Homo sapiens: one gene and its partners. The protein of the gene in region 5 interacts with the protein of the main gene of each other region in a biochemical or structural test. Each region holds a gene or a part of one and is shown on either strand. Other genes may lie near its edges.

Evidence for each region.
Region 1: the proteins of PARP1 (region 5) and ETS1 form a complex in vitro, tested with the Homo sapiens proteins (one study listed by BioGRID).
Region 2: the proteins of PARP1 (region 5) and NCAPD2 interact in far-western blotting, tested with the Homo sapiens proteins (one study listed by BioGRID).
Region 3: the proteins of PARP1 (region 5) and OVOL2 form a complex in vitro, tested with the Homo sapiens proteins (one study listed by BioGRID).
Region 4: of the proteins of PARP1 (region 5) and SP1, one has a biochemical effect on the other in vitro, tested with the Homo sapiens proteins (one study listed by BioGRID).
Region 6: the proteins of PARP1 (region 5) and LIG3 form a complex in vitro, tested with the Homo sapiens proteins (one study listed by BioGRID).
Region 7: of the proteins of PARP1 (region 5) and SUPT16H, one has a biochemical effect on the other in vitro, tested with the Homo sapiens proteins (one study listed by BioGRID).

Annotation. Positions count from the first base shown.
Region 1 is NC_000011.10:128,486,516-128,490,753, reverse strand, and holds part of ETS1 (protein C-ets-1), read left to right. Parts: intron 1-177; coding exon 178-297; intron 298-1,263; coding exon 1,264-1,464; intron 1,465-4,238. UniProt on the Homo sapiens protein: Transcription factor. Directly controls the expression of cytokine and chemokine genes in a wide variety of different cellular contexts. May control the differentiation, survival and proliferation of lymphoid cells.
Region 2 is NC_000012.12:6,510,934-6,515,171, reverse strand, and holds part of NCAPD2 (condensin complex subunit 1), read right to left. Parts: intron 4,063-4,238; coding exon 3,920-4,062; intron 908-3,919; coding exon 780-907; intron 709-779; coding exon 585-708; intron 400-584; coding exon 252-399; intron 1-251. UniProt on the Homo sapiens protein: Regulatory subunit of the condensin complex, a complex required for conversion of interphase chromatin into mitotic-like condense chromosomes.
Region 3 is NC_000020.11:18,040,602-18,044,839, forward strand, and holds part of OVOL2 (transcription factor Ovo-like 2), read right to left. Parts: intron 1,123-4,238; coding exon 933-1,122; intron 1-932. UniProt on the Homo sapiens protein: Zinc-finger transcription repressor factor. Plays a critical role in maintaining the identity of epithelial lineages by suppressing epithelial-to mesenchymal transition (EMT) mainly through the repression of ZEB1, an EMT inducer.
Region 4 is NC_000012.12:53,404,010-53,408,247, forward strand, and holds part of SP1 (transcription factor Sp1), read left to right. Parts: intron 1-2,575; coding exon 2,576-2,744; intron 2,745-4,238. UniProt on the Homo sapiens protein: Transcription factor that can activate or repress transcription in response to physiological and pathological stimuli.
Region 5 is NC_000001.11:226,380,418-226,384,655, forward strand, and holds part of PARP1 (poly [ADP-ribose] polymerase 1), read right to left. Parts: intron 2,767-4,238; coding exon 2,619-2,766; intron 792-2,618; coding exon 651-791; intron 1-650. UniProt on the Homo sapiens protein: Poly-ADP-ribosyltransferase that mediates poly-ADP-ribosylation of proteins and plays a key role in DNA repair.
Region 6 is NC_000017.11:34,983,147-34,987,384, reverse strand, and holds part of LIG3 (DNA ligase 3 isoform alpha precursor), read right to left. Parts: coding exon 3,833-4,238; intron 1,398-3,832; coding exon 1,254-1,397; intron 1-1,253. UniProt on the Homo sapiens protein: Isoform 3 functions as a heterodimer with DNA-repair protein XRCC1 in the nucleus and can correct defective DNA strand-break repair and sister chromatid exchange following treatment with ionizing radiation and alkylating agents.
Region 7 is NC_000014.9:21,359,602-21,363,839, forward strand, and holds part of SUPT16H (FACT complex subunit SPT16), read right to left. Parts: intron 3,903-4,238; coding exon 3,837-3,902; intron 3,728-3,836; coding exon 3,632-3,727; intron 3,549-3,631; coding exon 3,433-3,548; intron 3,347-3,432; coding exon 3,193-3,346; intron 2,724-3,192; coding exon 2,596-2,723; intron 1,613-2,595; coding exon 1,477-1,612; intron 1,372-1,476; coding exon 1,245-1,371; intron 933-1,244; coding exon 814-932; intron 9-813; coding exon 1-8. UniProt on the Homo sapiens protein: Component of the FACT complex, a general chromatin factor that acts to reorganize nucleosomes. The FACT complex is involved in multiple processes that require DNA as a template such as mRNA elongation, DNA replication and DNA repair.

The DNA of each region.
Region 1 (4,238 bases), on a different chromosome or scaffold from region 5:
GAGCAAGACTCCGTCTCAAAAAAAAAAAAAAAAAAAAAATTGCCTGCTCTGGTGCTCTGGTGAGGATGCTAGCACAGTTGTTTCTCAGCTTGCCTTCTTACAGCCCATTTGTAATGTTTTATGATTGGTTCATTACCTATGTAATTTTTGTTATTCATATGCAATTTTTTCATGCAGATATGGAATGTGCAGATGTCCCACTATTAACTCCAAGCAGCAAAGAAATGATGTCTCAAGCATTAAAAGCTACTTTCAGTGGTTTCACTAAAGAACAGCAACGACTGGGGATCCCAAAAGGTATGGTTTTGTAGTTGGAAAAAGAGTGGTTGGGGTCAGACCCTTTGGGAAGACACATTTTCTCACCTGGAGTGTGTGAGGCAGACGTTACACTAACCACATTGGAGTCAGCAGCTATGGGCCATGGCTGCCATCTGTTAGGACAATCATGACACACATACTGAGGCTGCCCCGTCTCCTGGGCTTGTTCTTGCCATCTTGGTATGAAGACAGTGGTCCTCAAACTTGCCTGCACACTAGAATCACTTCTGGATCTCTTGGAACAGCTCTGATGTTGGGCATTACACCTGCTGTCATCTGAACTTCTAAGTGTCATTGGTGGGTGTAGCCAGGTTAAACCTCAGGTCATGTATGAAGATTGCATGTTATCAATACTACAGTGCTACTCAAGCTATAGCTTATGATAAGTACAGACTTTGCAGAGTATCTGGTATAATACAGGCACCTAATAATGTTATTACCAAGTGCCATTTGAATGAATGACTACTACTAATTGCTACAATTGTTACCACTATAATTGGCTAAGATAAAAAATAATCGAGAATAATAGTCTCAAGTATATTATAGTTAAGAGCAGGGAGAGGCATGAGCAATCTCTTGTTATTATTGCTATTAAAGAAGCCATTTGTTCTGTTCAGGGCTTTAAAAAAGTCCAATGGGAATAAGGCAGTGAGAGAGGAGATTCATGGAAATCTTTGCCTGCAAGGACAGAGAATACTCATGTGGTACTTTTTGGCTGGCAGTAGTGACCTCCTAGCTGGTGAAATAGAGAAGGCGGAGATGTTGAATATGGAGGGGAGGGTTATGGAAGGCACTCAATGATGTGCAGGCTAGGCTGATGCTTCCTCATTCGATGAATAAAGATAGCATTCTCAGCTAAATTCAGCTCCTTCAGTGTCCTCTCTGAGGCTTGGATAGGAGTTAAAAGCCCGACCTGCTGGATCTTCATCTGATCTCTTTCCTCAGACCCCCGGCAGTGGACAGAAACCCATGTTCGGGACTGGGTGATGTGGGCTGTGAATGAATTCAGCCTGAAAGGTGTAGACTTCCAGAAGTTCTGTATGAATGGAGCAGCCCTCTGCGCCCTGGGTAAAGACTGCTTTCTCGAGCTGGCCCCAGACTTTGTTGGGGACATCTTATGGGAACATCTAGAGATCCTGCAGAAAGGTAAATATGTGGAAACAGAGAGAGGTGGAGGTTATGTGGGGTTGCTGTGAGAGTAGGTAGGGGGCTCACCCAATGGTGGGACGTCAATGCCTTTATCTGTGGGTGTCCTACTGTAGGACGTATGTGGGAATGTGCCTAGTACACTGCTCAGCATACAGCAGGTACTCTTAGATGAGTGTAATTTCTTTTTCTTCTACATATTGGGGGTTCAGATATTAATCTTCAGCAAGATTGTACCACTGAAGCTTCTTGGATTGCAACATTCTAATCCAGGTCCTTATCTCAAACCCATGCCCTGGTTGAACAAGCAGTGCCCACAGCCAACCCAAGAATAGTTTTTGTTTTTGTTTTTGTTTTTGTTTTCTGCAATCTTAATACACACTGCCTTGATGCATGCCCCATAATACCTCATCACATCCCGGGAAAGCTTAGCGTCTGAGACCGTATTAATAAGACAGATTTCTCTGCCCACTAACTGAATTGGAATTGCAGTAGTGCATCATACCTTTTACATCTGGAGCAGGAACTGGGGTTATATCAGGACGCTATGTTGCAACCTTATAATGACATGGCCTCCCCTAACAGCCTCTTCCAACCTTTTTGGACCAAGTGACTCATGTACCACAGTCCTGGCTGAGTATAGAAACAGCAGCAGGCGGCAAACTTGGGTGTTTTTGTGCTTATTTTTTTGAATTTTTTCTTAAAATAAATTGCAGTTACCAGCAGTCAGCAGTGCCCTTCAGCTGACTGTAAGCCTAGAAGCCCATTGCCCTCTCTAACCCAGGCCCATCCTTTCCCTGTGGTCATCAGCTCTAACCCTTGGCACAGACGCTGGGGGAGGGGAGCAAAACTCAGGATTAGCACTTTTACCCCGCATTATACCTTCCTTTGGTTAAGAATATATTCCATTCTGCAGTGCTCAAGAGAGACCCAAACTAGATTTCTCTGTGCTCAAAAATGTTATCTTTATTCCTTCTTTTCACTTTCTGTTGAAAAATAAGACATAAAGGAATACAGGAAAGAACTAGGTGAGTCTTTCTGTGGCTGCTTTTACCGAGGATGGCAGGCAGTTGCAAAGCACCGGCATGTTCTCCATGCACAGACACCCACTCATAGGTGTTGACATGAGCGACCTGTTTATAGAGGGAAACGATACGGCAGGCTCCTAACAGATCTGATTTGACTGTTGACTTCTAAACACAATAGCAGATTCAATCAGACTGTGTAACCCAGTATATTCTACTAAGAGGCTGTTTTCCTCCATTTATCAAAATGGAGCTGCTAGGTGTTTTGGGCTATCTAAGCCCATCTCTGATTGTAGTTACAATTAATATCTCTATCATGTCTCCCTGTTTCCAAAGTGCTTTCAAATACATTTTCTCTTTGGATTATCAAAATAACTGTGAGATAGTAAGGACAAGTCCTATTATTGTCCTTGTCTGTAAAATGAAGCTCAGGGTAGGCGATTTCTTCAGTATCACTCATCTCCTTTTCTTCATTTTATTTCAACTTTCAGTATATTTTTATTTTATTTTATTTTATTTATTTTTTGAGACAGAGTCTTGCTCTGTCACCCAGGCTGGAGTGCAGTCGCGCGATGTCGGCTCACTGCAACCTTCGCCTCCTAGGTTCAAGCGATTCTCCTGCCTCACCCTCCTGAGTAGCTGGGACTACAGGCGCATGCCACCATGCCTAGCTAATTTTTGTATTTTTAGTAGAGTCAGGGCTTCACCGTGTTGGCCAGGATGGTCTTGATCCCTTGACCTCGTGATCTGCCCACCTTGGCCTCCCAAAACACTGGGATTACAGGCGTGAGCCACCGCGCCTGCCCTCAATATATTTTTATTTAACTTAAAATTTAACATCCCATCCTGTGCTTTTTGTATAATAATGTGGATTCACAGGGGCCTTCTGGCCGCTAAGACTGGTTTGGCCTCACTTAGGGTAAAGGAATAATGTAAGAAAATTTAAGAGAATTAGGATATAAGTCAGTATGTTTGAGAGCAAAAGTCATATCTTCCCACCCAATATTCTGTTGAGAGAGGCAGAAAGAATTCTCCCTCTTCAGGTTCAGTTACTTGAAGAGATGAGCATGATGTTTGTGCTGAGGCTACAGCTTTTGTTCTGTAATTAAAGCAACACAGCAGCAAAAGAACATAGCTGTTTGGGGTGGGGTGGAAGGTGAAAGGTACGGGGATGTTTCAATCTGATAAACTGCTAAAGCAAAGTTTAATCATTTTATCTCAACTGGGAACTGTTTTTCTGTGCAGGCATAAACTTGTTTTCCCATCAGACTTTGCTCCTAACAAGCTATCAAATACCTGAGGAAAAACCCAAACCCATACTCTATGTCAGATTCTTATGGTGAAATATAATCAGACTACTCCATACAAGAATCGGAGCCATGGCATTTGTTCCAGGGTAATTAGAGGATCCCAGGCTTACTGCAGGGTCGTTCAGAGCTTTCTGTCCGCAGGTGCACTTCGTCTCCCTTCCTCTCCTTTTCCTAGGGGAGTTGGCATCTGGGCAGGAGCTTGACTGGGTTGCTCTTCTCTCCCTTGACACAAGCGCAGTCGCATTTCACCAAATGGAGTCACCTTACCAGTGTCCTGCTTCTTGTCTGGGCCTGAACTTGAAACCTGAGGGCAATGGGAAAAATACAAAACAAAAACCAGACATCTGTTAGAGGAAATGGAGAACGTAAAATCTATGGCCTAAAGACTGCAATATATTTTTGAGAAATTTTGAAATTGATTAGTTTGGGGGTTGGGGAT
Region 2 (4,238 bases), on a different chromosome or scaffold from region 5:
GACTTAAGCTGCAGAAATGTCATCTCCCTTACCAGAACTGGATAAAAGCAATGTGAATTGAAAGATTAACAGATTAATAAAGAGCTCCTTATTCAACAAACTTGACCTGCTTCTCTACAGAAAGGAAATGTCACAATGATAAATCTAGACAACTTGTCAAAGCTACTTTCTTGTTCTGTTAAGAAACAGCCTTTCAACACTGGACTTAAAATCCCCAGAAAAAGCTCAGTGACCCCTAGTGGACCACCTACTTCTCCATCCAGGTGATCTAGCAAAATGCACATGCTGGACATCAGGATAGCTGGGACACGTTCTGCTAGTTCTGTCAGGAATGCTGCAAAGCCCTTTGTCCCTGAAGGGTCTCGACTCAGCTCTTGGGGACACTTTTGTCCAATCTCTCTACACAGGGAAGAAAACACAGCCATAGCAACATAGATCAATTATTCAGTTCCCAGTAAGGGAAGGTAAGACAGGTATCTAATATCTGAAGGAATCTACTGTTGCACAGATAATGTATTTCCAATCTTTCTTTATTCCCTCCCCAAGGAAAATAAGCATGAGAAACTTCGAGAAGGAAGAGTCACCTTACAATCTCTCCCACTATGCTCTTCATTCCATAGTCAGTTGCCCATAGACTCACGGCTGCAACCAGTACAGGTGCCAGGTGTTCAAAGTGCTGCAGCATCTGGATGATCTTCACTGTAGCACCTGTGGAAGCATTAAACATGAGAAATTATGGGCAATACAAAAAAGGCGGGGCAAAGCGACTGGTAACTTACTGAGCATATGGTTATAACGGGTCAAGGCTACACCAAGCAGGTGTGTTATGGCTTCCCGAGTGGGGCGGTTCTTCTGGTGATTAATGGTGGGATTCTCCAGAAGGCGGTAGCAACAGCCAGTAACCAAACTGAGAAAGGAAGAGTTTGAGATGATGAAAGCAGCTGTCTGAATCCAATTGTATCAGAGCCCTGCCTCATTCATTCTATCCCTACTGCTCCCAAAGTCAGGGTTTTCTTTATTCTAGCCATTACTTTCTATAACAAGTTGCTTTGCTTTGCTGACCCCAGTTAGGTACTCCTTCCTTCAAGATTACCAACTTTCAACCAGTTGTGATGCTGACAAAGAACCTAAATATATCATAAAAATATGATAGAGTTGGCCGGGTGTGGTGGCTCATGCCTGTAATCCCAGCACTTTGGGAGGCCGAGGCAGGTGGATCACGAGGTCAGGCATTCAAGACCAGCTTGGCCAACATAGTGAAACCCTGTCTCTACTAAAAATACAAAAAATTAGCTGGGTGTGGTGGTGGGCGCCTGTAATCCCAGCTACTTGGGAGGCTGAGGCAGGAGAATCCCTTGAACCTGGGAGGTGGAGGTTGCAGTGAGCTGATATCATGCCACTGCACTCCAGGCCAGGCGACATTGCGAGACTCCATCACAAAAAAAAAAAAAAAAAAGACAAAGTCACCAATGACTTCTCATTCCTAAATATAACGACTGATTCAATCTGCATCTCAAGTGGTCTTTCACAGCTGCATGTGATACAGTTAATCACTCACTTTCTCCTTGAAATATATGCTTTATCTCGCTTCCAGGACACAAGAACAAGACTCCTTTCTCAGTTTCTTTGGCTAGTTCCTCCTCAGACTCTTTTTTTTGAGACAGGGTCTGCCTCTGTTGCCCAGGCTGGAGTGCAGTGGTGCAATCACGGCTCACTGCATCCTTGACCTCCTCATAGCTCAGGTGATGCTCCCACCTCAGCCTCCACCATGCCCAGCTAATTTTTCTATTTTTTGTAGAGACACAGTTTCACTATGTTGTCCAGGCTGATCTCAAACTCCTGGGCTCAAGTGATCCTCCTGCCTCAGCCTCCCAAAGTGCTAGGATTATAGGCGTGAGCCATGCACCCGGCATCCTCACTCTTAATGCTGGAGTGCCCTAGGGTACCAGTCCTTGGATTCCTGCTCTTTTAGCTACACTTACTGATTTGGTAATTTCATTCAGTCTCACGGCTCTGAATACTATTATATTCCCAAATGTGTTATCTCTAGCTCAGACCTCTCTCCTGAACTCCAGATCTATATATTCAACGTCCAAATCTGACTTTACGTGGCTAATAAACACCTCAAACTTTGTATGTCCAAAACAGAACATCTGATCTTCCTCCCAAAACACCTATTCACAGCCTTCTCCCTATCTCAGTTACCATTAACTCCAGTCTTCCAAATGCTCAGACCAAAACCCGGGAGAGTCATCCTTGACTGAACTCTCCCTCCCACCTCACACCCAGTCTGTTAGCAAATCCTGTAAGCTCTACCTTAAGGAAAAAGTATAGAATCCAACTACTTCTCCCCATCTCCACTGCCACGCCTTGGTCTAAGAGACCATCATCTCTTGCTTGAGTTATTGGAACAGCCTCTTAACTGGTCTCTTGCTTCCCCTTTCCCTCCATAGTCGATTTCAATACAACAGCTAGGATGGCCCTGTTGAAGTACAAGTCAGGTCACCTCACCTCCCTGCTTGTGGCTCCCCAGTGGCTCCACTTCATTCTGAGGAAATGCCAAAGTCACCATGATGGCCCACAAGAACCTGCGGTCTGGCTCCCCACTGCTCCCATGGCCTCACGGCCTAACCCTCGTACCTGCTCTCAGCTGTCAGCTCTCTGGCCTCCTTGCTATTGCTCGTACGTGCTGGACATGCTCCCTCCTCAAGGTCTTTGCATATGCTATTCCTTTTCCCTGCCCTTGCTATTCCTCCACATATTCTCATAGCTCTCAGTCACCTCCTCTGGGTCTTTGCTCAAATGTCACCATCTCAAAGAAGTCTTACTAGAGTAGCTTGTCTGTCTGTTTGTCTGTCTGTCTATCTATCTATCTATCTTTTTTTTTTTTTTTTTTTTTGGAGATGGAGTCTTGCTCTGTTGCCCAGGCTGGAGTGCAGTGGCGCGATCTCAGGTCACTGCAAGCTCCACCTCCCGGGTTCACGCCATTCTCCTGCCTCAGCCTCCTGAGTAGCTGGGACTAGAGGCGCCCGCCACCATGCCCGGCTAATTTTTTTTTGTATTTTTAGTAGAGACGGGGTTTCACCGTGGTCTCGATCTCCTGACCTCGTGATCCACCTGCCTCAGCCTCCCAAAGTGCTGGGATTACAGGCGTGAGCCACCGCGCCTGGCCCTATCTATTTTTTTTGAGACGGGATTTTGCTCTTGTCGCCCAGGATGGAGTGCAATGGTGCGATCTCAGCTCATTGCAACCTCCCTCTCCCAGGTTCAAGTGATGCTCCTGCCTCAGCCTCCCAAGTAGCTGGCATTACAGGCACACACCACCATGCACAGCTAATTTTCATATTTTTTTAGTAGAGACAAGGTTTCACCATGTTGGCCAGGCCGGTCTTGAACTCCTGACCTCAGGTGATCCACTCGCCTCGGCCTCCCAGAGTGCTGGGATTATAGGCGTGAGCCACCGCACCGGGCCTAGAGTAGCTGATTTAAAATCACAACCTTCTTCCATCAAACTTATTTTACTTATTTTAAAAATAGACTTCTGGCTGGGCGTGGTGGCTCACACCTGTAATCCCAGCACTTTGGGGGGCCAAAGCAGGGAGATCACCTGAGGTTAGGAGTTCAAGACCAGCCTGGCCAACATGGCAAAACCCGTCTCTATTAAAAATACAAAAATCAGCTTGTGGTGGCGGGCACCTGTAATCCCAGCTACTCGGGAGGCTGAGGCAGGAAAATTGCTTGAACCCAGGAGGTAGAGGCTGCAGTGAGCCGAGATTGAACCACTGCGCTCCAGCCTGGGCGACAAGAGTGAAGCTCTGTCCCCCCACAAAAAAAAAACAAAACCAAAAAAACGGCATATCTATCAACAGAGCCTCACTCTCACAGCTCAGTATTATCTGTAGCCATCCTCCCTACCCACCTGACAAATTCTTCTTCAATTATTGAGTGGTTCCACAGGTGACGGATGTCCAACTGAAGTAGCTGTGTTAAAAGCTGAAGAATTGGTTGCCTCTCTTCTTCCCAGTCAAAGCCATGGGCTGCCTTGGTCCGAGCTTTCTTACCCTAAAAAGGATCATGTATACATTGAGGAAAAAATAAGGGAAAAAAGTGGGTCAAGATCTGTCAGTCTGAGTGCCCAAACAATCTAGTACCAAGACAACATAGAAGGTAATACGGAAGAAATATTACAAGTTCCACAGCGCTACTTGTCCAGGAAGAAAACGTGTGACACTTTTGAG
Region 3 (4,238 bases), on a different chromosome or scaffold from region 5:
GAGGCCAGGTGTTTCTCAGATAGAAGCAGTGAGGCCGAGACAAGAGGCCAAGGGCACCCCCAGGACTCTGTGAAGAACTGGAACTGGGGAGAACCTGGATTCCCACTTCCTAAGTCAGAAAACTGAGGCAGGTCCCAGAAGAGGAAGATGCTTGCCTGCCAGGCTCCAGTACGAGGCTCGGGTCAGCTCTAAAGGCAATGAGCTCCTTTTTGTGTCTCAGGAGGAACACGATGCTATCCAGAGACAGGCTTATGTCCCAAGAGAGAAGTATAAAATACTCATTGTGGGGCCACAAGAACCACATTCCAGCAGCCAGAACCAAGGGGCTGAGCTGTGGCAGGCCCCGCGTGTGTGCCATGCATCATGATTCTCAGAATACTTCCAGCCAGGGATCCGTTTTGAGCCTCGCTAGAACTCACATCGATATCTCCATTTTACAGGGGTGAAAGGCAGGCTACCAAAGGTGGCTCACCTGGCCCAAGGTGACACAGCTGGCAGGTGGCAGAGTCAGGAGGTGAACCCAGAAGGGCTGGCCCTAACGCCCCATCATCTTGTGATCTTTCTTTTTTTTTCTTTTTTTGAGATGGAGTCTTGCAATGTCACCCAGGCTGGAGTGCAGTGGCATGATCTTGGCTCACTGCAACCTCCGCCTCCCAGGTTCAAGCGATTCTCCTGCCTCAGCCTCCCAAGTAGCTGGGATTACAGGCGCCACCACCACGCCCAGCTAATTTTTTTGTATTTTTAGTAGAGACAGGGTTTCACTATGTTGGCCAGGCTGGTCTCAAACTCCTAACCTCGTGATCCGCATCTTGTGATCTTTCTAGAAACACAACATTGTTCCACGGTCTCAACCTGGTTTTTTGGTGGGAAAGAAACAGGAGCTCTTGGCCAGAATAACAAAACAGAGAACAAAGCACGCACTCCCCGCTCACCTGTGTGTGTGCGGACGTGCCTCTTCAGGTCGAAGGTGTCGTTGAAGCCCTTGCCGCAGAAGGTGCACAGGTGTCTTTTCACCTGGTTGTGGCACTTGAGGTGACGGTTCAGCATGCGCTGCAGACGGAAGCCCTTGCCACACAGGTCACAGCTGTGAACCACCGAGTCGCTGCACGTGCCTGTGGTGAACTGGGGGCAGAGAGAGGCCATGAGGGTCCCCGGGCAGGCAGGCACATCCAGTAGGCTCACTCAAGAGACCCACCTCCCTGTGTCTTGAGGCTGCCCTGTCTGCGGCTTCTGCCCCTAAAATTTTCAAGCAGGTTTTGGCTTTGGGAAAGGTGAAGTAACAACTGGCAGTTCCTCCCACCCTTTTTTTTTTTTTTTTTTCTTTTTGAGATGGAGTCTTACTTTTTTTGCCCAGGCTGGAGTGCAGTGGCTCGATCTCAGCTCACCGTAACCTCCACCTCTTGGGTTCAGGTAATTCTCCTGCCTCAGCTTCCCAAGTAGCTGGGACTACAGGGGCACATACAACCACGCCTGGCTAATTTTTGTATTTTCAGTAGAGACAGGGTTTCACCATGTTGGCCAGGCTGGTCTCAAACTCCTGACCTCAAGTGATCCATCCGCCTCAGCCTCCCAAAGTGCTGGGATTACAGGCATGAGCCACCGCACCCAGCCAGTTGCTCCCACTTTTTATTCTCCCCTTCTTCCTTAGAACAAACCTCTGACTTCTAGCTGGGCATACTGTCTTACAGCATCCTACAGGCATGTGATGGGGTATGAATGTTAGGCCCCTCCAAATGTCTTGTTGAAATGTGATCCCCAGTGTTGGAGGTGGGGCCTCGTGGGAGGTTACAGGGGCAGATCCCTCATGAATGGCCTGGTGCCGTCCCCGTAGTAAAGAGCGAGTTCTTACTCTCATCAGTTCATGGGAGAGCTGGCTGTTTAAAAGAGCCTGGTGGCCAGGCGCGGCGTCTCATGCCTGTAATCCCAGCACTTTGGGAGGCTGAGGTGGGTGGATCACCTGAGGTCGGGAATTTGAGATCAGCCTGACCAACGTGGAGAAATCCCATCTCTACTAAAAATACAAAATTAGCCAGGCGTGGTGGTGCATGCCTGTAATCCCAGCTACTCGGGAAGCAGAGGCAGGAGAATCACTTGAACCCAGGAGGCAAAGGTTGCGGTGAGCCAAGATCGGGCTATTGCATCCAGCCTGGGCAACAAGAGCAAAACTCCGTCTCAAAAAAAAAAAAAAAAAAAGAGCCCGGCACTTCCTCCCCTCTCTCTTGCTTCCTCCCTCACCATATGACACGCTTGTTCCCCTTCCGCCTTCTATGAGTGGAAGCTTCCTGAGGGCCTCACCAGAAGAAGACACCAGCCCTATGCTTCTTGTATAGCCTGCAGAACCATGAGCCATAAACCTCTTCTCTATAAATTAGCCAGTCTCAGGTATTCTTTATGGCAACGCAAAATGGACTAAGACAGCATGGCCATGGACTACCTGGCCAATGAAATAGAAATCTCCTTGAAGGGGAGCAAACGGTGCCTTCTTCCTCCTCCACTCCTTCCTGCTGACTAGAGCACCAACAGTCACCTTGGACCATGAGGTGGGAGGAGCAGAAAGGAGTCTGGGTCCTCATGACATCATGGAGCCTGGTATGTTATATTACAGACAGTACCCAAAGAGAGCCACACTCAATTCTGTCCTCCTTGTGCCTGCATCCTGCTCCATTTATCAAGAGATGGAGACTGTTTTCCCTCCCCTTGAATCTGGGCAGGGCTTATGACCAGTTGGATCAACAGAATGCAATGAAGATGTGTCAGTTCCAGGTTTTAAGAGACCTTGTAGCTTCCATTTCTTCCCTCTTATAAGCCAGCTGCCACATAAGAAGTCTGAGGCTACCATGCTGTGAGGAAGCCCAAGCTAGCCATGTGGACAGCCAAAGGCCACATGGGGGAGCACGGAGGAGCCAGATATGAATAAAGCCTGATTGGACTCTCCATCCCAACTCAGGGCTGCCACCAGCTGAATGAGTCGCCCCCACTAACACTACCCAGAGTAGAACTGCCTAGCAGAGCCATGCCTATGGCTTTTGTCTTGACCCACGAAATCATAAACGCATAAAATTATCATTTTGTAAAGCGGCTTGGTCAGTACCCACAGCTTTGTTATCAGCAAAACCACAACCAGACCTGGGTCTGGACTCCCTGCCCAGTGCTTTCTACCACCTTCGCTGCTGCTAAGGAAGAACATAGAATCTACATCTGGGTGATAAAAATGATGTGTTCAATTTTAGTATCTGATTTGGTAACTTTTGAACATGTGATGTGAATGTTACCAAATCAGATCCTTTAGAAGATGGATCCCATTGCTCTGCCAAAATTCATCACTAGCAAGAAGACTGGTCCTCTCCTGGCTCCACACTCTCCCAGCTTCAAATACTCTCCTCTTTCATCCACCCTGGGTATTGCCCTCCCAGGACTCAAGGGAGCTCAGTTGCTCCCTTGCCGATGCAGCCTTCTCCAAATACTGCAGCCCATGACTAAACTGCTCACTGTCCCACTTAAACCAGTGCCTCTCAGACTCCAGCATACCTATGCCTCCCCTGGGGTCTTGTTAAAATGCAGGTTCTGATTCAGGAGGTCTGGTAGGGTCTGATGTGCTGCATTTCTAACCAGAGCCCAGGAGATGCCACTGCAGCTGATGCACACGCCACACTAGCCCTGAGAAGTCATGCTATATTCCATCTCATTCCCAAGTTTCACTATGCACACAGTTCATCTTGTTTTCTCAACTCAACACTTTGAGGATGGTCAGCAAGCATTCGGTCCCATTCCTGCCTCCCTACCCACTGCTCCAAGCCTAGTCTAGGGCCAGTGCACAATCAGTATGTGCTGACCGGCAGCTGGGAGCAGGTGGCAGGATGCAGAGAGTCTCAAGGGAGGCACAAGACCCCAGAACAGGGTATTCCAGTCAGCCTCCTCCACTAGTTCATTTTCCTTTGCTTGGAGCTTAATTTGCCCCAGCTAACATTGATAAGTCCCTGATCTGTGACAAGCCCTGTGCTTAGAGCTGGAGGCAATACAGTTAGAGATGGCTTAATCCCCAGTCCCTAGGAAGCTGCCGAGTCTAGTGGGGGTGCAGGCAAGTCAACAGCCATTGACATCTGAGAGGCCCAGGGGTCCGAGGGGGCACCTACCCCAGACCTACAGCACCAGGGAAGATGCTTCCAGAGGAAGTGAGCTCCTTAGTCAGGCAAAGATGAGGAAGAAAAGGGGTGCACAGCAAAGAACATTCCAGGAGA
Region 4 (4,238 bases), on a different chromosome or scaffold from region 5:
AAATACAAAAAGTTAGCCGGGCGTGGTGACGGGCGCCTGTAGTCCCACCTACTAGGGAGGCTGAGGCAGGAGAATGGCGTGAACCTGGGAGGCGGAGCTTGCAGTGAGCCGAGATCGCGCTACTGCACTTCAGCCTGGGCGACAGAGCGAGACTCCGTCTCAAAAAAAAAAAAAGGAAAGAAGTCTTGAGAAGAATATTATCTGCCACTTTATAAGATATTACTTTTGCGAAGAATATTATCAGCCGGGTGCGGTGACTCACGCCTGTAATCAGCACTTTGGGAGGCCAAGGCGGGCGGATCACAAGGTCAGGAGTTCGAGACCAGCCTGTCGAAGATGGTGAAACCCCATCTCTACTAAAAAAATACAACAAAATACAAAAAGTAGCCAGGGGTGGTGGTGGGTGCCTGTAATCCCAGCTACTCAGGAGGCTGAGGCAGGAAAATCGCTTGAACCCAGGAGGCGGAGGTTGCAATGAGTCAAGATTGTGCCATTGCACTCCAGCCTGGGCAACAAGAGTGTAACTCAGTCTCAAAAAAAAAAAAAAAAGAATATTATCTGTCACTTTTTACCAGTGGCCTAGAGCTGTGTTTGAAAATGTCAAATGTGACCAACTGAGTCATGATGAGAGTCTAAAGCATTTTAGCATACACTGTTTATTTATATATATTTTTTTGAGTTGGAATCTTGTTCTGTTGGCCAGGCTGGTGTGCAGTGATGTGATCATAGCTCACTGTAGCCTTAAACACCTTGGCTCAAGCAATCTTCCTCCCACCTTAGCCTCCTGAGTAGCTGGGACCATAGGCGCATGCCACCATGCCCAGCTAATTATTATTATTATTTGGCGACGAAGTCTCGCTCTGTCGGCCAGGCTGGAGTGCAGTGGCACAGTCTCGGCTCACTGCAACCTCTGCCTCCTGGGTTCAAGCAATTCCTGTCTCAGCCTCCCGAATAGCTAGGATTACAAGCGTACTCCACCATACCCAGCTGATTTTTTTTGTTTTGTTTTTGTATTTTTAGTAGAGATGGGGGTTTTACCATGTTGGCCAGGCTGGTATTGAACTCCTGACCTCAAGTGATCCAACCACCTCGGCCTCCCAAAGTGCTGGGATTACAGGCGTGAGCTACCATGCCCAGCCTATTATTTATTTTATAGACAGAGTGTCCCTATGTTGCCCAGGCTGGTCTTGAACTCCTAATCTCAAGCAGTTCTCCTGCCTCAGCCTTCCAAAGTGCTGAGGTTACAGGCAGAACCACATGTAAATATATGGGCATTGCTGGTTCAAATTAGATGTACATTTAAATATTTTCAAACTGGCCTTCAAAAAGTTGTATTAATTTATCACTATTTGTGTATGAAAATGTCTCTTTCCGGCTGGACATGGTGGCTCATGCCCACCCGTAATCCCAGCACTTTCGAAGGCCGAGGCGGGTGGATCACCTAAGGTCAGGAGTTCGAGACAGCCTGACCAACATGGTGAAACCCCATCTCTCCTAAAAATACAAAAAAGTTAGCCAGTCATGGTGGCATATACCTGTAGTTGCAGCTACTTGGGAGGCTAAGGCAGGAGAATCACTTGAACCCAGGAGATGGAGGTTGCAGTGAGCCCAGATAATGCCACTGTACTCCAGAGCCAGCGAGACTCTGTCTCAAAAAAAGAAAGGAAAGAAAAGAGAGAGAGAGAGAAGGAAGGAGGGAAGGAGGGAGGGAGGGAAGGAAGAGAGAGAGGGAGGGTCTGTTTTCCTGTACCCTTACCAATGCCGTATGTTATTAGGGTTTCAACTTTTGGTAATCTGATAGGTGAAAAATTACAAATGCGTTATAAGTGGAGTTGCATTTTAAAAACTATGATCGGGGGAGGGATAGCATTAGGAGATATACCTAATGCTAAATGACGAGTTAATGGGTGCAGCACATCAGTATGGCACATGTATACATATGTAACCTACACGTTGTGCACATGTACCGTAAAACTTAAAGTATAATAATAAAAAAAAACAACTATGAGATTTGATCAGATTTTTACGTATTTATTGGCTCTTGGTATTTTCTTTCTTTTTTTTTTTTTTTTTTTTTTTTGAGACAGAGTCTTGCTCTGTCACCCAGGCTGGAGTACAATGGTGCAGTCTCGCTAACTGCAACCTCCGCCTCCCGGGTTCAAGCAATTCTCCTGGCTCAGCCTTCCAAGGAGCTGGGATTACAGGCATGCGTACCATTCCCAGCTAATTTTGTATTTTTAGTAGAGACGGGATTTCTCCGTATTGGTCAGACTGGTCTTGAACTCCTGACCTCAGGTGATCCGCCCACCTCGGCCTCCCAAAGTGATGGAATTACAGGCGTGAACCACTGCGCCCAGCCACTCTTGGTATTTTCAATGATGATTCTTGAGATTTCAGTGAGTCTTCAGGTGTCAGTGAATGGAATGGCTAAACATAAAAAGGCTTCAAAACTTGTGATACTGTGAATGTAGGATGTCAGTTCAAAAGAAATGATGTTGTGACTGTAGGGTATCACTGAGATGCCAGTGATAACCTGCCCATGTCACATGTTGACCCTTTTCTCTCTTAATTTCAGGTGATCATGGAGCTCAGCTTGGTCTCCATGGGGCTGGTGGTGATGGAATACATGATGACACAGCAGGTGGAGAGGAAGGAGAAAACAGCCCAGATGCCCAACCCCAAGCCGGTCGGAGGACCCGGCGGGAAGCATGCACCTGCCCCTACTGTAAAGACAGTGAAGGAAGGTGAGTTGACCCAGCCAGTTTCTTACAAATATAAAGAAAAATTAATAGATTTGGAGATAAGAGGAAGAAGATTAATTTTTTTTTTTTTTGAGACCGAGTCTGACTCTGTTGCCCAGGCTGGAGTGCAGTGGCGCAATCTTGGCTCACTGCAAACTCCACCTCCTGGGTTCACGCCATTCTCCTGCCTCAGCCTCCCGAGTAGCTGGGACTACAGGCACCTGTCACCACACCCAGCTATCTTTTTTTATTTTTAGTAGAGACAGGGTTTCACTGTGTTACCCAGGATGGTCTCGATCTCCTGACCTCGTGATCTGCCCGCCTCGGCCTCCTAAAGTGCTGGGATTACCAGCGTGAGCCACCATGCCCGGCAAAGGTTAATTTTTTTTTTTAGGATTTAAGACTCAGAGCTGGATGCATATAATCCCAGCACTTTGGGAGGCCAAGATAGGAGGATCACTTCAGCCCAGGAGTTTGAGACCAGCCTCAGCAAGAAAGCGAGAGCCGATCTCTACAAAAATTTAAAAATTATGTGGGAATATTTTACTGGCCATAAAAAGAGAAAATGAAAAAAAAAAAAATTTTTTTTTTTTCTGAGACAAAGTCAGTCTGTGTTTCCCAGGCTGGAGTGCAGTGGCACATTCTTGGCTCACTGCAACCTCCACCTCCTGGGTTCAAGCAATTCTGCCTCAGTCTCCCGAGTAGCTGGGACTACAGGCGTGTGCCACCACGCCCGGCTAAGTTTTTCTATTTTTAATAGAGACAGGGTTTCACCTTGTTAGCCAGGATGGTCTTCATCTCCTGACTGTGTGATCTGCCCACCTCGGCCTCCCAAAGTGCTGGGATTACAGACGTGAGCCACTGCACCTGGCCAAAAAAATTTATTTATTTATTTTTTTGTTTTGAGATGGAGTCTTGCTCTGTTGCCCAGGCTGGAGTGCAGTGGCACAATCTTGGCTCACTGCAGGCTCCGCCCCCTGGGTTCACGCCATTCTCCTGCCTCAGCCTCCCTAGTAGCTGGGACTACAGGTGCCCGCCACCTCGCCCAGCTAATTTTTTGTATTTTTAGTAGAGACGGGGTTTCACCGTGTTAGCCAGGGTGGTCTCGATCTCCTGACCTTGTGATCCGCCTGCCTTGGCCTCCCAAAGTGCTGGGATTACAGGCATGAGCCATGGGGGCGCCCGGCCTTTTTTTTTTTTTAAGACAGATCTTCATCCGGGTACGGTGGCTCACGCCTGTAATCCCAGCACTTTGGGAGGCCAAGGCGGGCGGATCACCTGAGGTCAGGAGTACAAGACCAGCCTGGCCAACATGGTGAAACCCCATCTCTACTAAAAGTACAAAAATTAACCGGCGTGGTGTCAGGTGCCTGTAATCCCAGCTACTTGGGAGGTTGAGGTAGGAGAATTGCTCGAACTTGGGAGGTGGAGGTTGCAGTGAACCGAGATCGTGCCGTTACACTCTAGCCTGGGCGACAGAGTGAGACTCTGTCTCAA
Region 5 (4,238 bases):
CCCTGATGTCAAATATGTATGGGAAATCCTGTATTCTATTTCTCTGGTTCCTGAAGACCTACAGTGGTAATCAGCATAATAAACCCACACAGAAACCTGTTTAGCTTTGTTTTACCCTACCTTTTCCAAACATACTTGAACCTTGAACTTCTGTTTTGGCAGATATCTATGCACATCTTACAGAGCAGTGCGAAGTGATGAGAATACAGGTTGAGCAGCTTCCCTTATCCGAGATGCTTGAGACCAGAAACCTTTCAGACCTTAAAATACTTGCTTCATATTTACTGACTGAGCATCTAATCCAAAACTCTGAAATCTGAAATGCTCCAATGAACATTTCCTTTGAGCATCATGTTGTCACTCAAAAAGTGTTGAATTTTGAGGCAATTTGTTTGGGCTTCGGGACTAGGGAGACTCAACCTATAGTAGCTTACCGTCTTTAGTTGAGAACACGCAATGCATGTGAATCTACAGTACAAAGCAGCAACACTGAGAGCAAATACTGGTTTCCCTTCATAAAGAACCACAGCGATGATGATGTTAAGATCCAGTTTTTCAGCGCTGTGTTCGACTCTTCCTCACTTACTCGTCATCACAATCATAAGATACAGAAGCATTGTCCCTGTTGCACAAATTCAGATTCAACTCACTTTTGGTGCTGATGCACAGGGAAGCCTTGTTGGCCGTCCCCGTCAACTTCCCCCCGAGTTTCTCAATCATGGCCTTCACTTCATCCTTGTTCCGGGACAGCTTCCCGAGAGTCAGGATCTTCATGTTGGATAATGGCTTATCTGGGATGAAAGGAGAGAATCATTCAGCAAGGCCAGCTCTGGTGCTGCTCCCCAGTAAGGGGAGGTGGAGGAGCAGGTGAGCCAAGCAGCGAGCTCCTGGGAAAAGCCTATGAAAATACACTCGCGAGAAAACAGGACGGGACAGCAAGCTGCCACCTGAGTACCTACAGATGTCCCTCAGCACAGAAAGGACTGGGCAGGGAGCAAGCCACAAAATGCCACTCCATGGCCAGGCCAGCCTCGCGGCGTGAGCCAGGCAGCTGCGGGTTACCCCAGGTCCGCGCCAAGGTCAGGCTAGGAAGGCTGCATCTGCGGACGAGGGACCAGGAGGCTGGAGTCGGATGGGAAGAGGGGTAAGGTCACATGAACCCCCAATTCCTTCTGTTATTCTCCCAAACAAACTGCAATTCTTATGAATTAACCCCATTTTAAAATGAGACATGTCCATGATAGTCCCTCAAAGCAGTGGCCAGCACAATCACACGGAGCTGAGCTAACTGATTCTAGGAGAAAAGCAGCAGCCTGGTGTGCACTGACCCAGGCCAGAAAGGCCTGGACAGGGGTGTGCCTTCTGTTCACAGCAAACAACACAGTGCAGGTGACACCCGTCCAGAACTGGAGTAGCTGCAAGGAAAAGTCCTTCCTGCCTTCCCTGTGAGGGCAAACAACTAGGAAACACTGACAGTTTAACTGAAACTGCTGAGGTCTCCAGAGAACAAAATTATTGACTCATGCTGAACTGCAAGTCAGGGGAAAGCAGAGGAGGGAACCCTCCATGGAGGGGTCAGAATGCCAGCCCCCAACTGGCCCTTCATGTGGGCACCTGGACCCAGGCTGCCAGCAGCACAGTGGACTCGGGATGACCACCAGCACACACTGCAGTGACCACTGGTCCCCTCTCAGGATATGAAAAGGAAGTCAATAACAGGTTTATGTTCAAGGAAGGAACCCTCATCCTCCACCCACCAAACTGTGACCTTCACCAATAGACTATGCCACATGTCTCTGAGTAAACAAGCAGCGGGTCACTTCTCCTGCCAAAAAAATACGTTGCTCTCACTGTCTTGGTTGGCTTGGGGCATTTCTCACTAGTGCTGATTAGTAACTCCCTCTGCATACAACAGAGACTTGAGCATCACACCAGGGCCCGGATGACTGGTGGGCGCAGGGCAGCCTGGAGAGTGAGGCCTGGGATGCTCCTCTGCAGTGCAGTCAGGCAGGAGACCCTGCGCCCAACTCCAGGTAAGGCTGTCGACCTAGCCTTTCTTAGGAGCCCCTCTCCTAGCCTCCCAGAGTAAGAGCTGCTTGTTCTTCTACAATGTTTATTTTATTTTTAGAGATAGGGTATCACTCCATCGCCCAAGCTGGTGTGCATTAGCGTGATCATAGCTCAGTGCAGCCTTGACCTCCCAGGCTCAAGGGATCCTCCGCCTCAGCCTCCTGAGTATCTAGGGCTAAAGGCACATACTCGGATTAATTTTAAACATTTTTGTAGAGATGGGGTCTCACTACATTGCCCAGGTTGGTCTCAAACTCCTGGCCTCAGCAATTCTTTTGCCTCAGCTTCCTAAAGTGCTGGGATTACAGGTGTGAGTCACTGCTCCCAGCCGATGCTATGTTCTTAACACTCTCCCACCTTGCTGTGGTCAGGGGTGTAACAAGCCAAGAGAAGAGGCCTATCCCCTGCAGGGCAAGGCTTCCCCATGGTGGGGTCAGCAAAGAGAGACCCTTGACGGATACTTTCTTCACCAGCTCCACACCACCAGCAAGTAGTGGGCAAACAATTCCTGCAAAGCAGCTCTAAGACCGGGGTCCCAAATGCTGTACCTGCTGAAGCAGAGGAGTTCACAGCAGCAGGAGCCGAGGCTGTGGAGGGCGGAGGCGTGGCCGCCACGGAGGCGCTGGTTTCTGGGGGGAATATACGGTCCTGTTTTTTAACCTTCAATTTCTTGAGGTAAGAGATTTCTCGGAATTCCTAAAAAATATTAAGTTTTAGTTAAGAAGCCAGCTCTCCCTTGAGGTAACCACCCCATAGACCAAAGAGGATTTGGCTTGTCCAAATCAAATAATCTCTTTTTTTCTTCTTACAATAAAGAGTAACAAAAAATAGAAAAATGTGAGGCTTTAAGGATGAAAGACAGTATTATTGCTGCTACAGTACTTATTTCCGGTACTTTTACATTTATAATAGGGCTAATATTGTGGCTGCTTTAAGAGAAAAATCTTTCCCTAAAAAAAACAAAAACAGAAACCAGTGGCCAATTCGGTCAGGGAACCACCACTGGAACTGCTGTATGACTACAACCTCCCTGGCCTCATTCCTGAGTTGCTCCCTTCGAGAGTTAATAGGCCTCTGTGGGATCACATGCCTACTCCAGAACTCCAAGACCCCGAATACTATATACACACTGGGAGATTATTACCCAAAAGGAAATCACAGTATTTGCTTTCCTTTTTAGAAGAAGGAAAAATGAATGCAGGGAGCCCTATGGTATTCACTATAAATTCTTCCATCAGCACAATTCACTCTTCACTCTGACTGATTTACAAGGGGCCTTGCTCTAAATGGTCACTCAATAAGTATCAAATACATGAAGCTCAGGGAAAGATACTGTGCTCCCAGGTCTTCATCCAATCAAGAAACTGCCCTTTCCAGCTATGCCTGTGTTCAGGATGTCAGTTAGATACAAGAGGTCACAGATTGCTTCCGACACACACAGACCACCTAATATGTGCTACCAACCATAGTCTGGTTAAAAAGACAGTTTCTGCTCTTCAGAAAGTATCTCATTCGTGACTGAGCATCAGCTATAGGAAGGTGAACTTTAACAAAGGAGCTAAGCTATGCCAGAGGTGTGCCAAGGTGATGTGAGACAGGGAATGCTAGCATGCACTTGGAGGCAGTGATCTGCTAAGCCCACTGGGAGCTGAAAACACAGGGGACTGCCTAAGCACAGCCATCTGAGTAGCACACGGTGGCATGTGGGGTGCCCTGGCTAGGCGCCCTATTGCTAGGTACTCCTAAAAAGAATGAGCAAGACTGGCGGTGGGGTGGGGAGAGGGGTATGTGAGAAGGAAGAAAAGGGTGGCAGAAAAAGGCTGCAGAAGGCCAGCAAAGCCGCATCACAGAGGGCTCTGAGGACAAGCTACAGAGCTGGCCTTGATTCTGTGGGACAAGTGCCTGGGGGCAACAGTGTCACTGCCTGGGCAGCAAGCACTGCCAGACCAAAAACTTGTCTCGCACATGCACATAACCTTTAAAAATGTATATAGATGCTCTACAATTGATATATAAAATACAAGGAATGGCACATTGCTTATTGCCATCTTACTATTTCCCCATCAAAGATAGTAAAAGAAATACAAATACCACGTAAGGGTCTGTAAGATTTGCATACCCAGAAAAATCGGGGAATCAGTCTAAGATTTTAAGGGTGGGGGAAGTGA
Region 6 (4,238 bases), on a different chromosome or scaffold from region 5:
ACGTCAACTTTCTCAGTCATAAAAAGGGCCTAATAAAAAGTACTTCCTAAATAAAAGTACTGTCTAGGGTTAACTGAAGAAGAAATGAAACTACATATATAAAAGCCCCTAGTCCAATGCTGTCTGTTTACGTAAGGCCAATAAATGATCCTGATCTTCTCAACTCCTATCTATACCACATGCCCCAGCAAAGTCTTCCTGAATCCCTGTCTATGAAATAGTAATTCTATATTTTATATAAAAGAAACTATATATGTGTGTATACACGTGTGTGCATGTGTGTATTTTAGTGAAGAGAACAGGAAACTTAACACTTTATTGTTCATCTGTCCTACAAATAATAGCCACAGTCCTCCCCTTTAGGAGATGGGATTTGAACCCAGAGCTCACTGATTCCAAAGTCTGCAAGCTTCATCCCTAGGCTGTACTGCCTCCCAACAAATAGCAATATCCTTCAGATCTTTTTTTCCTTCCTTTGTGTTCCATGAAGTTCCAGTGTTTTGAATAAACAGTTTTAAGAATCAAGAAGGGAGATCCATGCATGACATCTCCCTTCTTTCATACTTTCATTTCTAGGCATATTCAGGGAAACAATTTCTCAAAATTCTTTCATTATCAAAACACAAGGAAGTAAAAGACAGGTTCTAATAATCTCTGTCTGGCCCAGGTAACTATTTCAAGGGGAAAAAGTCTTGACAAAACAAATCTTTCCGCTGCGATAGAGGTTAAAGTATACAAAGAAATGCTATACAAGTGGAATGCTGGCCGAGCGCAGTGGCTCACGCCTGCAATCCCAGCACTTTGGGAAGCTGGGGCAGGTGGATCACCTGAGGTCAGGAGTTTGAGACCAGCCTGGCCAACGTGGCGAAACCCCATCTCTACTAAAAATACAAAAATTAGTCAGGCATGGTGGCAGGTGCCTGTAATCCCAGCTACTTGGGAGGCTGAGGTGGGAGAATCGCTTGAACCCAGGAGGCGGAGGTTGCAGTGAGCTGAGAATGCACCACTGCACTCCAGCTTGGATGACAGAGCAAGATTTCATCTCAAAAAAACCCCCAAAACCAAAAAACAAACAAACAAACAAAAACCAAGCGGAAGGCTTAGAATTAGCCATTACCAGTCTCTGCTCAGACAGAAGCAAATTATTAATGAGATGAGATAGCACAGAATTTTCACTCTTTAGCCAGAATCCTAGGTAGAATACAAAATAAAAGCAGCACTATAACAGCTAAAGTAGCCCTAACCTATCTTACCTGAAAAGCCAGAAAATTTCCGGGGATTGGTACTGGTGACAAATGAGGCGCCTTTCACTGGAGAAGTCACCTGGCCAGTGGTTGTCAACTTAGCCTGGACAACAGCTTTCTTCTTTGGTGTACCTGCTGCCTTAGAAGACAGATCTGTAGGATCCCAAAAGAGTATAAAATATCCTTCAGTGAACGATCTCTGAAAAAAACATCCAAAGAATCTATCAACTGCTCCTAGGGCCTTGCTTGTTAAGTCACTACCCTAGCACTAGCCCAAGGCTGGCTGGTGGCTGGTATTTTTTGAGTGGGGGTAGTAGGTAATAGGGTATTGTGGGGACAGAAGGGAAGGATATGCTGGAGACAAAAGATCCAGTTACCATTTATCTCTATTAGTACCTTAAATTTTCATCAACATTCTCCACTTCTTATCCCATATGTAAGTCTCCAGAAATAACAATTTGGGGGAAATCAGAAATCATAGTTTGATGGATAAAACTTAGGGAACCCCCAACCCCACAGAATTAGCTTCAATTTAGAGATGAACAAAAAGTAAATGAGGATCACAGAGCATGTCAACCTAGCATAGGAAGGAAAATTTCCAGATGCTTAGTTATCTGAGTCATGAACTCTACCTGTATTTCTCTTCCTCCAAATGAGAGATGGGTCAAGAAGTAACAAAGGCCGAGGCCAATAGCTAAGGCAGTGCAAGGTGGGATGGGGAGCCTGAGAATAAAGTATATGGGAAGCACAGTTTTCTTTCCCGGAAGTCTTTTTTCCTTTCAAAGAACAAGGACAGATACCCATTTTTAGAGCCATTGTTAACTGTCTTCCTATGGTGACCAGAACTAAGTTGAAGATATGAACATTATTTTACAGACACTGAAGGTCAAAGAGGACTAACTGGATTTGGGGGTATTGGCATAAAATTTCTAAAATATGCATATGTAAATATGCATGTACATGCAAACATGTTATATATAGCCATATATAGGTATGAATTTTACATGCATATACACGCACATATTTTCTAGCTCTGTCTGCTGAAAGGGCTTAGAAACAGACATGCCATGGCTGGGCGCTCAGGCCTGTAATCCCAGCACTTTGGGAGGCCAAGGTGGGTGGATCACTTGAAGTCAGGGGTTCAACACCAGCTGGACCAACATGGTGAAACCCTGTCTCTACTAAAAACACAAAAATTAGCTGGGTGTGGTGTCAAGTGCCTGTAGTCCCAGCTACTTGGGAGGCTGAGACAGGACAATTGCTTGAACCTGGAAGGCAGAGGTTGCAGTGAGCTAAGACAGTGCCACTGCACTCCAGCCTGGGTCACAGAGTGAGACTCTGTCTCAAAAAAAAAAAAAAGAAGAAACAGATACCCCATGACAATGTGTTCACATAGTATCCGGGTTTTACTCTTTAATACCATTTCCCACTAACAGGATAGTGCCACTACACTCCAGCCTGGGTCAGAGTGAGACTCTCAAAAAAAAAAAAAAGAAGAAACAGATACCCCATGACAATGTGGACACATAGTATCCAGGTTTTACTCTTTAACAGGGGCATTTCCCACTAACAGGAATCCCCAGAGAAATTACCAATTTCAGGGCTGGGGAAGGATACATACGGGATAAGACTAAAAGCATCTTGCTATGCTCAAGAGTAAAGAAGTACATTAAAAAAAGTTAATGAAGGTATACAGGACACAGAGGACAGTGTAAAGGGGTTCCTAATTGGCCAAATATGGGACAATTAAGTATCAAATTAGTTAAGTACAGTAATGAATTATATGCTACAAGAAAAAAAGTAAAAGAGGATAGTAATCAGTACTCTATTCTTCCAAAATATCAATGTCATAAAAGAGAGACTATGGAAATATTTCAGATTAAAGGAGGCCAAAGAAACATGACAACTAAATGCAACACCTGATATGATCCTAGACTGGGATCCTATACTGCAGGAAAAGGCTACTGAAGGTATGACTCAATCCATTGACAAAATAGTATACAGATGGTAGATTTAAGTATTACATCAAGGACAAATTTTCTGAAGATGATAGCTATATTATAGTCGCATAAGGGTCATATATCCTATTCTTAAGGTATATACACTGAAGAATTTTAAAGGGCCATGATGTATGCAACTTATTCTCAAATGGTTTAAAGTGAGTGCACGCACACGTGTGTATGTATGTAGAGAGAGACAGCACATGAACAAATATGATAAAGCAAATAGAGTAAAATGTTAATAGGTAAATATGGGTAAAAGGAATATGAATGTTCTTTGTACTATTTTTAATCTTCCAACACTTCAGTGAGTTTAAAATTATTTCCAAATAAAACGTTAAAGGCTGGGCATGGTGGCATGCGCCTGTAATCCCAACTACTTGGGAGGCTGAGTCAGGATGACCTGAGTCCAGCAGTGCAAAGCTGCAGTGAGCTACGAATGCAACATTAAACACTGGCCTAGGCAACAGAGTGAGACCCCATCTCTAAAAGAGCAAAGTTAAAAAAAAGAGAAAGAAAGCAGTTGAACTCCTTATCCCTTTTTCTCTCAGCACCAGTAAGATGAGAAAGCAGTGTTCTCTACCTTACCTGCAATGTGCTGGGTTATCTGTTCCTTCTCATTATCTTCCAGCTCTTCCCAGCCTTCCAGCTCTGTGAGGTCCTCGATTTTTTTTGTGGTGGCCCGGGCCCGCTCTAGTTTCTCAAACATGCATTTAATGTGGTACCACTCTTTCATATCACCCCCAGACTCTGAGAAGGGATTGGGCACCACTTTGCCAATTCGGCATACGCCCTTCACAATCTTTTCCTTGCATTTTTTGCAGCCAGCTGTGCCACGCTTGGCATAGTCCACACAGAACCGTTGCTCAGCCATCTCACAGGGGCCACTGCAGAGTCCCACATGCAACCCTGGCAAGAAAACAAGGTAGGTGGCACGTGATCTTAGATGGCTTCCCTGGAATGATAGAACAGGCTTTCTTCTCAGGAAGAGGGG
Region 7 (4,238 bases), on a different chromosome or scaffold from region 5:
ATGGCATTCTGTCGGCATAAAACAGAAAGAACACAGAAGTCAGAAACACAAAGGTATCTGTGATGGAAATGGCAGTGATCCAAACTTGGGCCTCCACAGCATGCATGCAAAAATAATTAAACCACCCCTGGTGTCATCATAAATAATGATGCTTGGGAATGGAAACAGTGTACATTTGAAAAAGTGCTGTGCTCCTACTTATTACAGGAACTTTGGAAATCATGTTGGTAACAAATCTTATCTAAAGCAAAACTTCATTTTAGAAAGAGAAATCTGGAGATCTCGTATAAAACATTTGCTGGCCACCATATAACACACCAAAGGAACAAACATGCTTATGAGCCCCTTCTAGATGCCAGGCCTTGTGGCCTTTAGAGGCATTATTTTATTTAATCCTCTTAAATGTTCTTAAGTGAGAGGTGATTTTTTCATCACTTTTTTGTTTTTTGTTTTTCACACGCTGTCGCCCAGGCTGGAGTACAATGGCGCGATCTCGGCTCACTGCAACTTCCGCCTCCCAGGTTCAAGCAATTTTCCTGCCTCGGCCTCTCAAGTAGCTGGGATTACAGGCGCTGGCCACTACGCCTGGCTAATTTTTGTATTTTTAGTAGAGACGGGGTTTCATCATGTTGGTCAGGCTGGTGTCGAACTCCCGACCTCAGGTGATCCACCCACCTCGGCCTCCCAAAGTGCTGGGATTGTGGGCATGAGCCACCGCGCCCAGCCCTTTCATCACTATTTTATAGGAAAGAAGCTGAGTGAAATGAAGTGTCTTGCCCAAGAGCTGACAGCTAGTTAAGTAGAAAGGTATACCTTGAGGTGAAAGTGCAAGACAATAATCATTTCTCCATCACAGGGCTGGAACAAAGCATGCTTAATATTATTGTACAAAATATCCACTTTGTCTCCTCGAACAGATGTGAAGCGGAAGCCTGGGGAAAAGAATGAAGAAATGTCAAGCAGTATAATTAAGTTAGGCCAAAAGGCACTGCAACTCTTCTGGCTGATTTGCACAGGGTCAGAGGAAACACCAACAGCTGTATAGAGCTTTCCTTTCCTTCTGGCCACACAGCAGTGTAAGTAGATTCCTCCCAGCATTTCCTTGTCATACTTTATTAGCACCATGCTTTAACCAACTGAGCTAACCGGCGGATGGCTCTTTGTCATATTTTATTATCTGATCTGTCATTCCTAACAAATGTGCCCTGAAGAGAAAGCCTAGGTACAGGAGAGATCATCCATACCATTGACATGGGCCTCCAGTGAGCCTTGCATCCTCTTTTGGGCAATATTTGGGCGAATGTATAGATCTTTCAGTTTCGGATTACTCCGGTTTAGATTGATCACCAGTGAGTCTTGTTTTACAATCCCCTAAGCAAGAAGAAAATTAATGTGAATTGTCACATATCCTTACAAGTCTCCAAAAAATACATGTCCTTCTTTGTGTAAGAATGTTTTGCCTGTGTTCAGGCTCACCTCCTTCTCTTTCTCTTCAGCTTCTCGAGTTTTATAACGTTTCTGTACTTCTTTAATAATTCGGAAAGCATTCTGAAGGTTCAAGGCTGGTACTGTCTGTTCTCCGGGTGCCTTAATATTTGATGCTCGGTATGTACTGCAGAAAAGCAACAGCATTTATAGACATTTCTTTTTCAGGCCAGGGAAATTGTACTGATTTACTTTATCTTCTAAGCAGCTTAATCTCTACTTTGCTTTTTTTTTTTTTTTTTTTTTTTGAGACAGGGTGTGCCTCTGTCACCCAGGCTGGAGTGCAGTGGCCCAATCTTAGCTCACTGCAACCTTCGCCTCCTGGGTTCAAGCCATCCTCCCACCTCAGCCTTCCAAGTACCTGGGATTACAGGTACACACCACCATGCCCGGCTAGTTTTTGTATTTTTAGCAGATACAGGGTTTTGCCATGTTGACCAGGCTGGTCTTGAACTCCTGGCCTCATGTAATCTGCCTGCCTCTGCCTCCCGAAGTGCTGGGATTACAGGCGTGAGCCACCATGCATGCCCATTCCTTCTTTTTTCATTTTTCAAATCTGGTATAACATCCCCAAATTATCCCATTTCACACCATGAAATCATAGAATCCAATGTGGCACCAGTTTTCTTATTTGAAGATTCTACTGCAATATATGTTTATTACTTTTAACACTTATTTTCATAATTATTTTTTTTTTGAGACAAGGTCTCGTTCTGTTGCTCAGGCTGGATGGAGTACAGGCAAGATCAGGGCTCACTGCAGCCTCAACCTCCCAGGCTCAAGGAATCCTCTCACCTCAGCCTCCACAGTAGCTGGATGACGGGTGCACACCACCACCCCTGGTTAATTATTTTTTAGAAGAGACAAGGTCTCACTATATTACCCAGGCTCAAAATATGTTTAGTAAATATATAGTATCTTCAAGAAGATTCTAAATTGGGATCCATCCTGAAAATAGTACAAAGTCAAGAAGGCGATCCGAAACAAGTACCAATGAGGAAGGCTTTGACATTTACTAGGTAGGGAAAATGTAGCACAGACAATGAAATGTTTCTGAGAGTACCACTCCAGACAAGATGAATCTGGGTATGACTTTTCTTGGGGACTCACATTTCCTTGACAAAAGTCGCTTCAGGGTTAGGAAAGATGTTGCCTTCATTCCTGCCCAGAGCACTGCCTGGGCAATAAAAGTTGATTCGCAAGTAAGTATAATCTCCTTCCACGGACATACTTATATTCTGTTCAAAGGAAAAGCATAAAAAGTAAACAGATTTCTTTCCTAGAGATTAGTAGTTACAGAGATGTTAAAATTAAGTTAGGAGTTACAAATTGACCGCTCTTAACCTTAATCTAAATCTAATAAATTTACATAATTTATCTTTTTAATAACGAAGTATCCTTTTCCCAAAAAAATCTCTGAATTCTCAAAGTACCTTGTACCATGAATACAACTAAAAGTTAAACAATGATTAAACGAAGTTGAAAGAAAGATAGGCAAATTATGTTTCTAGACTAGTTTAGCTTTCTACTAAGTGAAAAAAACTGAAAGAGGAAGGAGAATGACAAGACAAGAGGGATGTCAGTAACTGAACAGAGTCTGAAGGAGTCAAAAGTGGGAGACATGATGAATGCAGATTATTTATGGCAAATACAATTACTATTTTAAGCAACAGTTTGGATGAAACCTGATGCACTGAATGTCAGTACCTTGATTGTGGCAATGTGAAACGGTGTTGCAATGCCAAACACGGGCATTATTACAGTCTCATATTTCTTATCGATGTAGATCTTCATTTCCCGAATATGTGGTTCCTTAGGCATCAGAGATGGGTTTTTATAGGACACATTAGACTTGCGAGCTCTGGAGTGGGATAAAAAAACAACTGAGAAATTTCTGCAGTCCCACAGAACCCTCAGATGATCTCACTGCTCAGTGAAAACTCTTACTTCTGAATCTGCTGTTCTCCCTTTTGTTCAGTCAATCGCCTCTTTGCTTCTTCATTGAGTTGAGCCGCTAGTTCTTTCTGATGTGCTCTTCGCTTCTCTTCTGCAGTCATTTCATTCTGGTGAATGGAAAATCCAATTTATCACAACACGTGAGCCATATGACAGCCGAGATCAATGTAATTTAAAATAGTAAACTTACTCTTGTTCTTTCTGTAAGTAATGCTGCCCGAGAACCTCTTCCCAAAAGGTCCTCTGCCTCATCTTTCTCCTCCTCCTCTTCTTCCTCATCTTCATTCTATGGAAAAAGTCATAATCAAAAAATGAAATTTTAATTATTTTAGCCAATATTATTTAACTTCTTTATATCCTAAACTTCCTATACTACTTATCTATCTTCTTCCTACCTTTAGGAAAATCCCCACATTCTTCACTTTCTTCTTCACAGAAGTGAGAACAGTAGCTGGGCCATCCTAGAATTAAAAGGAGAATGAAGACACATTATTTAAAAGAGGCAATTTCATTTTCTAACCTAGTAAACGGCTGGGCAATGCTTTGAATCTTTTGGACACTAAAATGTTTGACAATGAATAAATATAGTTTTTATCCTTCTAACCTCTAACCTCTCGTCAGGAGCTACAATTTTTTTTCTTTTTCTTTTTTTTGAGACAGAGTTTCACTCTTGTCAACGAGGCTGGAGTGCAATGGCGTGACCTCAGCTCACTGCAACCTCCGCCTCCCGGATTCAAGTGATTCTCCTGCCTCAGCCTCCCGAGTAGCTGGAATTACAGACGCGCACCACCACACCT